Linked DNA regions of Homo sapiens. The protein of the gene in region 1 purifies or fractionates together with the protein of each later gene. This does not show direct contact. Each region holds a gene or a part of one and is shown on either strand. Other genes may lie near its edges. The genes, in order: WAC, WIPF2 and WIPF3.

Evidence for each region.
Region 2: the proteins of WAC (region 1) and WIPF2 purify together in Homo sapiens (affinity purification with mass spectrometry, with the first as the bait; one large-scale study listed by BioGRID). This does not show direct contact.
Region 3: the proteins of WAC (region 1) and WIPF3 purify together in Homo sapiens (affinity purification with mass spectrometry, with the first as the bait; one large-scale study listed by BioGRID). This does not show direct contact.

Annotation. Positions count from the first base shown.
Region 1 is NC_000010.11:28,613,080-28,616,731, reverse strand, and holds part of WAC (WW domain-containing adapter protein with coiled-coil), read right to left. Parts: intron 2,166-3,652; coding exon 2,047-2,165; intron 560-2,046; coding exon 370-559; intron 1-369.
Region 2 is NC_000017.11:40,264,238-40,267,889, reverse strand, and holds part of WIPF2 (WAS/WASL-interacting protein family member 2), read right to left. Parts: intron 3,401-3,652; coding exon 2,744-3,400; intron 1-2,743. UniProt on the Homo sapiens protein: Plays an active role in the formation of cell surface protrusions downstream of activated PDGFB receptors. Plays an important role in actin-microspike formation through cooperation with WASL.
Region 3 is NC_000007.14:29,882,869-29,886,520, forward strand, and holds part of WIPF3 (WAS/WASL-interacting protein family member 3), read left to right. Parts: intron 1-981; coding exon 982-1,725; intron 1,726-3,652. UniProt on the Homo sapiens protein: May be a regulator of cytoskeletal organization. May have a role in spermatogenesis.

The DNA.
Region 1 (3,652 bases):
GCTTTGAGCCACATCACTGTTAACTGGGTGACCCTGGGATCAAGGTCTTATGCACTATTTGGTCTTAAGGACTTCAACTCTATCTACACTGCTTAGCTGTTTTAAGAAGTAGAGAAAATAAATATAAGGCATTAAGCACTGAGCTAACTGCTGAGTACTTGACAACAGTGCCTATAATTATGTTAAAATATTTTGTAAAACCAGAAAAGTTATCTTATATATCAAATATTTTTTAAATGACTACAAAGTTAGAGATTCATTATTTTAAATATTGCTTGAATTCAGTGGTCACATTAGATTCTCTAGAAGTTGATTAAATTCTGTTTTGCTAATCATCCAAAGGTAAAATCTAGGCTGTACATAACATACCTGCTTCTCTGCATGATCTGCAGGCCATCCTTGAACGTGTTTTATGAGATTTTCACTGAAGTGTGCTGCTAGTGCAGGCGTTAATGAACACGTGGATCGGGCAGAAGAATTCTGTGGTACAACTGTTGCATTTGATGCATTACTACTATTAGAAGTATGATTGGGACCAGGTGATGGACTTCTCTGGCTACTAGAAAACAGAATTGAATGTGTAGTATGTTTAAAAGTAGTTTCTGGGTATCCTTATCCTAGAAACTGCATGTTAATACCTTTTATTAACTTAAAGATATCCAAATTCCTAAGAAAAATTTGTTATTTTAATGTCAAATAAAGAGAATTAATAATCCAAAGTATATGATTCCTCAAAACACTTTAGGGGGAAAAAACCCTTTTAACACTACTGTCAGAGTCAAATGTAAACTACTCTCCAAATCTGAGAGCAGAACCTGTTAACTTTGTGTACCACAAACACTAATAATATAACTAAAAAAAGTCACATTTTAACAGCTGTAGATGCACATCTGAAGACTGCTCATACACATCTAGATAAGGGGAAAATATATATTGCCTTTGTTCAACGTCAGAACTGCTGAATCAGAGGGTGAAATAATGTGAAGCAAAATACAGACATTTTATTGGATAGCACTGAACAAGCACAGTGGCAAAACAAAACCAAAAAAATAACACTCTGAGATTCTTTATCTTCTTTTAAAACTGAATGGTTTGGGCCAGGGTTGGGGATATGGTGGTGAGAACCAAAAAATTTAATCACCCAAGTTGATCTCCTACCTGCTTCACCAGACTTGGCTCTGAATGAATTTCAGTTATTTCCAAAAACTAAATCTCCCAAAGGATGAAGAGTTTTCATCACTGAGGATATTTAAAATAATACTGCAGCCTCTAAAAACAATTTAAAAGAAGAATTTCCCAAAAATGTTCAGAGCAATGGCAACATTGCTGGAGTAAGTAGACAGCTTCCCAAGGTCATTATTTTGAAGGGAACAACTCTCATTTGGAGGTGTAAGTTCTGAAATGCTTGTTTAGAAAACAACAATAAAAACAACAGTTGAATTATTTTGCTACCTCATAGCATGAAATAAAAAACAGGAAAATCAATCAAATGAAAACCATTCATTCAACAAATGTCATTTAAAGTTGTGTTGTTAATGAACAAAGAAAAGTGCTAACACAATACAGCAGTATAGAACTATCTAAAAAGCCATCCGTATAGGGTCACAGTTAAGCTATTGGGAAAGCCTGACATATACCAGTTGGGAAACATTGGCCCAAGTTTTAGATACCAGACTTTGGCTTTCATCAATATACTCAAACCAAAACTGCTATGAGGAGGTTAAAAAGTAAGGTAATTCCAACAAATATTGTAAAATCGTGTGCCTTTCTGGTACAAGTATCACAAATCTTTAGCCCCGTCATATTCCACTGTGTAAAATTTTAAAGAGCCACTTTCTTCAAAATAACCCGGGCTTCACTACTAGAGACAATAACCTACCTCTTGTATACAGGTTTGTCTTTGTAAATTTTACAACATGTAAGCCTACTTTAGGGTATTCATGGAGTTTAAAGGTTAAGTTCTATTTTACAGATATAATATTCAAACAATGCAGTGTACCATCATTAAATAAAACAATGTGGTCTCAATATACAATATCAACCTACCTTGAGCGCTGAAGACTTCGAGGAGAGACAGGTTCATGACCTTGCTGCTTGTCAGCAGTTACAGGCTGCTGTGTGGCTGACTGTGACACTGGTCCTTGCTTAACTACTGGAGTACTAACCTGAAATGTCAAAATCTGGTGAGATGGTCTCCAAATCTAATCCACATCTCTCCCCCCAAAATCTAGGTAATCGTCTTGAAACATGTAAAATGTGGCAGTCAAGTTCTGAAACTTAGATCTCATTTCTTTGTGAAAATGGCCCAAGGTCATAAAATTACTTCCCTATCAAACTAGGGCTGGGCGCGGTGGCTCACGCCTGTAATCCCAGCACTTTGGGAGGCCGAGGCGGGCGGATCACGAGGTCAGGAGATCGAGACCACGGTGAAACCCCGTCTCTACTAAAAATACAAAAAATTAGCCGGGCGCAGTGGCGGGCGCCTGTAGTCCCAGCTACTCGGGAGGCTGAGGCAGGAGAATGGCGTGAACCCGGAAGGCGGAGCTTGCAGTGAGCGGAGATCGCGCCACAGCACTCCCGCCTGGGCGACAGAACGAGACTCCGTCTCAAAAAAAAAAAAAGTAACTAGTTCTCCTTTACAGCTCAGTTTTCTTTCCAATACATTATTATCTCTTCTGATTTACTGTTACTTTTATATCAATAAAAGTAAATTATGTATGCTACCACATCATACACATATGGATGCTTAGATTTTAATGATATGGAGAAATATGTGATTGGGCTATCAGAAAATGAGTTATGGCCCATATAAAGTTCAACATGAGAGTTTTTCAAAGAGATGTTACTCTACAGAGGTAGACTGAAGTCCATGATTGCCAATCAGGATATGTATTATATTCAGAAGCCACATAGAGAAAAGCAGTTTAAAATATAAGCTCTAAATTGAGGCACAAAGGCAGATGGAGTCCTTTGTGATTAAGTCACACCTCACTGCTGTTTTTCTTTTGGTGGGGTGAGGGGATATGATTAATAATTCTCCCTAACAAATCTGGAATGTCCTGCTTAACTTCTGAATATTACCTATCAATTCTAGTCAAGTCTTATAAAGAACATTTTATAAGCACTACATAAAAGCTCAAATGTTCAATTATTTTAAAAACAACTTGAAGAAGTTTTTGGAACACAAAAAACGAACAGCTACCTGCTTAAAGGATTTTTTTTTTCCAGACAGGGTCTTAGTCTGGTTGCCTACTCTCAAGTGCAGAGTGACGTGATCTTGGCTCACTCCAACCTTGAATTCCCAGGCGCAGGTGATTCTCCTACCTCAGCCTCCTGAGTAGTGCACATCACCATGCCCAAGAAAGTTTTTCAGAGTTTCACTCTCTTGCCCAGGCTGGAGTGCAGTGCCGTGATCTTGGCTCAACTGCACCTCCACTTCCCAGGTCAAGTGATTCTCATGCCTCAGCCGCCCGAGTAGCTGGGATTATAGGTCTGTGCCAGCACACCCAGATAATTTTTGTACTTTTAGTAGAGACCGGGTTTTGCCTGTTGGCCAGGCTTGTTTCAAACTCTAGGCCTCAAGTGATCTGCCTGCCTCGGCCTCCCCCAGCAAATTTTCAAATTATTTTTGTAGAGATGGGGTCTTGCTATA
Region 2 (3,652 bases), on another chromosome or scaffold:
ATTAAGGCGTGAGCCATCATGCCCAGACTCCATGACATAACTCCTTAATCAATGTTCTATACCTGTAGAAACTGACTTTAAAATAAAAGCTAAGGGCTGGGCGCAGTGGCTCACTTGAGGTCAGGAGTTTGAGACCAGCCTGGCCAACACGGCGAAAACCCGTTTCTACTAAAAATACAAAAATTAGCCAGATATGGTGGCACATGCCTGTAATTCCAGCTAGTCAGGAGGCTGAGACACAACAATCACTTGAACCTGGGAGGAAGAGGTTGCAATGAGCAGAGATTGCACCACTGCACTCCAGCCTGGGCGAAAGAGCAAGGCTCTGTCTCAAAACACAAACAAACAAATAAATAAATAAAGGCCAAGAAGCTGTTTGTGGAGGGTATGTCTCAAAGTCTAATGATACAACGATATGGGAGCCAAAATTCCCATGTCCAATAAGGCCCCAGAGAGCTGTCACGGTCTCCCTCACTCTAAAATTTCAGTTATGCTAATTATAACGAGATTACACAACCTCTTCTTTTTCCAGGGTTCCTAAATTCCCTCCTCACCCAGCTTAGGCTCCATTATTGCAATCACTCCCTCACATACACCCTTCCCTTCCTGCCCCACTCTCCCTTAGAGTCGCACATGCCTAAAACATGCTAACGCTGGTTAAACACAGCTCTACTCTTTTTCTGTACCTGCAAATCACAACTGAACACATGAGACTAATTAATCTCACATGAAATGTATGGCCCATAATCTCAAGTGGGCCCTTCGCGTGGTTGCCTATCTGAGCACACTTCCCTAGTCCACCCACACTCCCACGCTCCAGATGACCATTTCATGCCTCTTCTCTCTCCTCAACTCTCCTTCTCCTTCCCTCGCCTCAATCACAGCTGATGCTCTTGCTTTCCATTTCACTGAGAAAACAGAAGCAAATTAGAATAAACTTTCCACATGCTTCTACCACTACACCCACCTACCCACTTGCTTCTAAGCCTATATGCTCTGCCTCCCCTCTTGTTACTATGGAAGAACTATGTTCCTATCTAAGGCCAACCCTTTTTATCTATCGATCACATTCTCTTTTCTCTGGCCTCCTCCAGGTCATTATTCAGGCAATCTGTTCCCTCTCTTCTGATTCAATTTTTTCCCTCTCTCCTAAGTTTCATGCTACTCATTCCATCAGCATACAAATAGGTCTCCCATCTTGGGATGGGAAAAAAACAACTCTCAACCCCACATCTTCGTCCAACAATCACTTCACTTATCTTCACCCCTCTCTCCTGGACTTTACAGCGAACTCTTTAAGAGATTTCTATATTGCTATCTCCAATTTCTCTCCTCCTATTCCTGCATTCTTGAACCCACTCCAATTAAGCTTTCACTTTCACCCTCCACCACTCCACTGAAACTACTCAAAAGGGTCCCATGATACTAAGACCAATGCCAGTTCTTGGTCTTTAACTTACCTGACCCATCTGCAGCACTGGGCACAGCTGACCACTTACTCTACCTTGGAGTTTTTCCATCACATTCTTGGTTTTTCTCCTTCCATCCTCACTAGAAGCTTTTCTGTTTCCTCTGCTGGGTATTCTTCATCTCTTTTGCCTCTAATGTAGGAGGGCGAGGGCTCAGCCCTCATTTTTTTTTTTTTTTTTTTTGAGATGGACTGTCACTCTGTCGCCCAGGCTGGAGTGCAGTGGCGTGATCTCGGCTCACTGCAACCTCTGCCTCCTGAGTTCAAGCGATTCTCCTGCCTCAGCCTCCTAGGCCTCTTCTTATCTATATTCACTCCTTAGGTGACTTCATCCAGCATGTGGTTTTCAACACCATTCAAATGTATCTCTCTAGCCGAAACCTCTCCCCTCAACTTTGGAGTCTGATAGCCAATTACCAATTCATTGTCTCTTCTTGATTACCTAACAGGCATCTCAAACTTGTCTCAAACTGAACACCTATCTTCCCACAAATTCACAGTAGTCCTAACCATCTGGCCGTTTACTGCAACAGCCCAGTAACTGGTCTCCTTTTGTCACCTTTGTCCTCCTGCGGTCTGTTCTCAACATAGGAGTTAATGATCTTTTTAAAAGGTGAATCAAATCATACTACTTCTCTGTTTAAAACCCTCCAGTGGCTTCCCATCTCACACAGTTAAATCCAAGGTCTTTGCAAAATCCTGCAGTGCGCTCTCCCCTGCAGCTCCAGCTTTCCAACCTCCAAGTCCTACCACTCTTCCCTCCCCTCACTCTTTGTAGTCTTGCCACAATGGCCCCCTTGCTGTCCCCAAAATGTTTCAAGAATACTTCTGCCTTATGGCCTCTGCATTTGTTGTTCCCACTGCCTGCAACAGCTGTTCTCCTAGATAACTACTAAGCTTACTCGTCACTTTCTTAAGGTCTTTGTCAAATTTTCACCGTATCAGTAAGGACTGTCCTGACTCTCTCCCCACTCCTCCAATTAAAGATATCATCATCCCGACCTCCGCCCCAGTATATCTTATTCCTCTCCTCTGCTTTGTAATTCTCTAAAGCATACTGCATACTATGTATTTATATATTTTACTAGTTTGACTGTCAAATTTTTTTGTCTTTTCTATTTATTGCTATTTCCCTACCAACAGACCTGACACATAAAAAGGTACTCAATAAACCCACTGAGTGAATAAACGAATTACTGTCTTCAAGGAGTGCTCTGGGGAAAGATAAAATCAACTCACAGCATGATAGGGAAAAAGGTGCTTCCAAGCACTTACCTGCTCCCCGACTGGGAGGGTCTCGGGCTGGGGGAGGTGGCCTATTACTCAGTAAAGATGGGGAGGCCGAGGTGGGTGGAGGAGGTGCTAGGCCTCTGACAGGCCCTGGTGTCTTCCTATGCAAAGAATTGTGTCTCTGTGGCAGCTCAGGGGCTGACTCATTAGTGGGGCTAGAGGGTCCATTGGGGACCCCAGGAGGCTGGCGGTAAGGCGGAGGAGGAGGAGCCAGAGACTGGCCACTTGGTCCTGTTCTGATATTCACAGGGGAAGGAGGTGGTTTGACTGGGGGTGGAGCAGGAGGTCCCTCTCGACCAGGGTGAAGCCTTTGTCCAGGCGTCGGTGGCAAGGGTTTCTCTCTGTTGTAGGCGGGGGCTTTGCTGCTGTGCATAGGCAGAGGTGTGGGGGGTGCGTTGGCACGCCGCCCTGGGGGTGGTGGGGGAGGGGCAGAGGAGCTGTGCTTCATGCCCGTACTGCTGGTGGTATTAGGCCGAGAGAGGTCCGGTAAAGAGGGTCTCTGCATCCGGGGCAGTTCTGGGAGTGAGGCCCGGCTGCTGTCTGTATCATCCTGAGGACGCCCGCTGGCGGCAGATACTGGAGGCCTTGGGGCAGCAGCTCGAGAACTGGGGATTTGCAGGGCTGGCTTACCAGCTAGGTTCTCTACAAATACATAGACAACACAGGGTCAACAGAGCTGGACAGATATTGGTCAGTATCCCTACTTCACTCGGCTCCTTAGTGCAACCTGCATGGCAGCAGGGAAAGGAATTGAATAATTCTGGGTTTTTTGTTTTTCTTTTTTTTTTTTTTTTTTTTTTTTTTTGAGACGAAGTTTCGCTGTTGTTGCCTAGGCTGGAGTGCAATGGTGCAATCTCAGCTCACTGCAACCTCTGGGTTCAAGTGATTCTCCTG
Region 3 (3,652 bases), on another chromosome or scaffold:
GAAGAAATATTTTAATCTGCCTCCTGAGTAGACAGTGATACTCCAAGGACATCTCTAAGCAGTAATTGCAGAACTTCGAGGCAGTAAACAACGAGAGGAACTTTTTCTTATTAGAGAGAGGCAGAGCGAAAAAAGGGTGAGAACTGGCAAAAAGGTGCAAGGCTGTGCGGAGTATAGAGGCCCCTCCTGGGGACGTGCTCCACCTGAGTCTTCCATGAAAACCAAACGCAAATGCTTATCAAGAGCCAATGGTTGTTGTTGAATTTAAAAGAGGAATTGAATTTCAAGCTGGGGCAGATGCAATGAAGGATCTATAGGATGAGAAAGCCAAAACCCTTGGGAATTAGCATAAGTCTTTGGGAAAGGAGGTTTTGAACTTCCAGAGGTCATAGAACTGTGAGGTTCAAGGTCATTGGACCTGGGTTGTCAAGGGCAAATGTCTCCCTCCAGTCTTACCTTATGTATTCAGGGAATCATGAATTTTCTGCTCTCAACACAGAAACAAAGAAAGTCAAATTTCACAAAATGCTGGGAGTGAAGAAAACCTCCCTAGCCAGGAGTGCTGGTTGGTACACCTGAGGGTCCAAATTAGAGCATAAGGGCTGATGGACCTAGCGGGTGTCAGTGAATGAGTTCGTGAGTGTGGCCTTGATTAGGAAGGGCAAAAGACACCCGGGCAGTCCTGGCCCTGGCTGGGATACTAGAGGCCCAAGGCAGATGACAGCACAGGTGGCATGGATAGGAGGGCTGGAGGCCTGACCTGGGCTTGTCATTAATGCTGGCAAGGACTTTGGATCTGGTCCAGTTGGTCCTTCTGGGTGACAGCTGTGGCACCTGAGGCCTCTCAGTGGACACGTGCAGAAAAAGCGGTCTACAGTGCAGCTCACTGCGGGCAGGCTTGAGTGTCCTGAGTGCCGCCTACCTGCGGGGGCTTTCTCCTTCTTTATTGCCGAGCTAACCCAGAATCTCTTTCACTTCCAGGTGGCAAGACAGGGCAGGGCCCTGGCTCCCGCGCGCCCTCTCCCAGGCTTCCCAACAAAACCATCAGCGGCCCGCTTATCCCGCCTGCCTCTCCCAGGCTAGGCAATACCTCCGAGGCGCATGGCGCTGCCAGGACAGCCCCGCCTCGCCCCAACGTGCCTGCCCCGCCCCCTCCCACCCCACCCCCTCCGCCTCCACCCTTACCCCCGCCCCTTCCCTCTTCCTCCCCCATCAAAACTCCGCTTGTGTCCCCACCCGGCCCACTGACCAAAGGGAACCTCCCGGTGGTTGCACCCCCCGTCCCCTGTGCGCCACCACCTCCACCTCCGCCACCTCCCCCAACGCCACCCCCGCTGCCCCCGGCCTCGGTTCTTAGTGACAAGGCAGTGAAGCCTCAGCTGGCTCCCTTGCACCTCCCGCCCATCCCGCCCCCGCTCCCTCTGCTCCCACCTTGTGGGTATCCGGGGCTCAAAGCGGAGCCCGCCAGCCCTGCGCAAGATGCGCAGGAGCCTCCCGCCCCGCCGCCCCCGCTCCCCCCTTATGCTTCTTGCTCCCCGAGGGCTTCTTTGCCCGCGCCCCCTTTGCCAGGAGTTAATAGCAGCAGTGAAACTCCACCCCCGCTACCCCCTAAATCCCCCAGCTTCCAGGCCCCACCGCAGAAGGCCGGTGCGCAGGCCTTGCCCGCCCCGCCTGCCCCTCCGGGCTCCCAGCCGTTCCTGCAGAAGAAGAGGCATGGCCGACCAGGTAAGGAGCGCTGCCTGGCCCAGTGCCCCTGGTGGAGTGCGATAAAATCTCGTCGTTGCACAGGACTTTATTGTTGGAGGTATTCGTTTCAGAGATGGACACCAGGGGTGAGGGAGGCAGAGAGACTTGCCCAAAATCATGCTGCATGTAAGCAAGGGATCCCGGCCTTGATCCCCTGCCCTTACTAGCTCTGTGGCCCTGGGCGACCACTTGGCCTCTCTGTTCTCCCTTCTATTCATCTGTAAAATGGGGATAGATGGCAATAGTTGTTACCTCCTGGGTTTGTTGTTAAGGATTAAGTGAGTTCTTAGGTTTGAGGTGCTTGGAACAGGGCAACAGTGAGCTTGAGAGGGATTATTTATTCTTACTACCAACCTTCCAACTCCCAATCTCCTCCCTGAGGTGGAGGGGGCGTGAGTGTGGCTTGTTTCCAGAACCAGGCCTCCTTTTATATTTGCCCGCGTTTTCCTATCTGGATCCCAGCCAGAATCTTCGCCGGCCCTCAGTAAACTGGATTCCCACTCTGCCTTAGTTTTCGCAGGTTCTCCGGCTGACTCAAGAAAACTGAGGGCCTGTATTTTGAGCCAAATATTAAAAATAATTCCTTCACATATGCAGCACAGGTTATTTGAATTGAGCGTTCATGCCCCATGGCTGATTTCCTTGATCCCGCTAGTAGGAGGCTTCATTCAGTTTTAGTGCCCCTGTGAATGGAAAGTACCTCCACACGTCCACAGATACACCCACATCCACACAGGCAGACACACTCAAACATATGCACACTCATAACACACACATCCACATGCACACCCCCAACACACATATTCCTTTGTCTTTTAGAAAATCTTTTGATGCAGAAAGCTTCTTAAAAGTATTTTCTTGACTTAAAAATAACGCAAGCTTGTTGCAGAGCTAATAGACGGAAATTCAAACTGGCCAGGTACGGATGGCTCACACCGGTAATCCCACTGCTTTGGGAGGCCCATGCATGAAGATGGCTTGAGGTCAGGAGTTCTAGGCCAGCCTGGGTAACACAGCGAAACCCCATCTCTACAGAAAATAAAAATAAAAAATTGGCTGGGCATGGTGGCAGACAACTATAGTCCCAGCTACTTGGGAGGCTAAGGCAGGAGGATCGTTTGAATCTAGGTGTTCAAGGCTGTGGGGAGCTATGATTGTGCCATTGTACTCCAGATTGGATGACAGAGCCAGATGCTGCTGTCTCTGAGTAAATTAAGTAATTCAATCACCCATAATAACATCACCCAGAGATGAAAACTGCCATTTGGATAGGTTTCTTCAATTCTTTTTTCTGAATATATGTACACGTTTACATGGTTAATACCATTTTTCACATACAGTTTTGTGTTCTGTGTTTTATTTAACATTATGTTAAAAACAATTTTATCAAATTGTTAAAATGTCTTTATAAGCATGACAATATATTCCATATTCCTCATGTTAGATATCTAAGTTGATTCCATTTTTTGTTATTATGAGTAATATTTTAAGAAATACTTTTGTAGAAATTTTAATCCACGTTTTTGATATTTTTCTAAAAGTATTGGTGTCTTAAAGGGAATTCCTGGTGCAAAGAGCAAAGATATTTTTAAGCCTCTTGATTACAAGAGGTAAGGTTTTAATCATTCTCTTTTCAATTGACTGGTCACCATGAGGGCCAGCATTTGGGCTGATAAGCCCCTTCTGATATTTGTTATTTTCATCTATTTATGATGTGATGAAAAAGACAAAGCTTTTTTTTTTTTTTTTTTTTTTTTTTTGAGACACAGTTTCACTCTGCCATCTAGGCTGGAGTGCAGTGGCAGGATCTCAGCTCACTGCAACCTTCGCCTCCCAGGTTCAAGTGATTCTTGTGCCTCAACCTTCCGAGTAGCTGAGGTTACAGGCGTGCACCACCACACCTGGC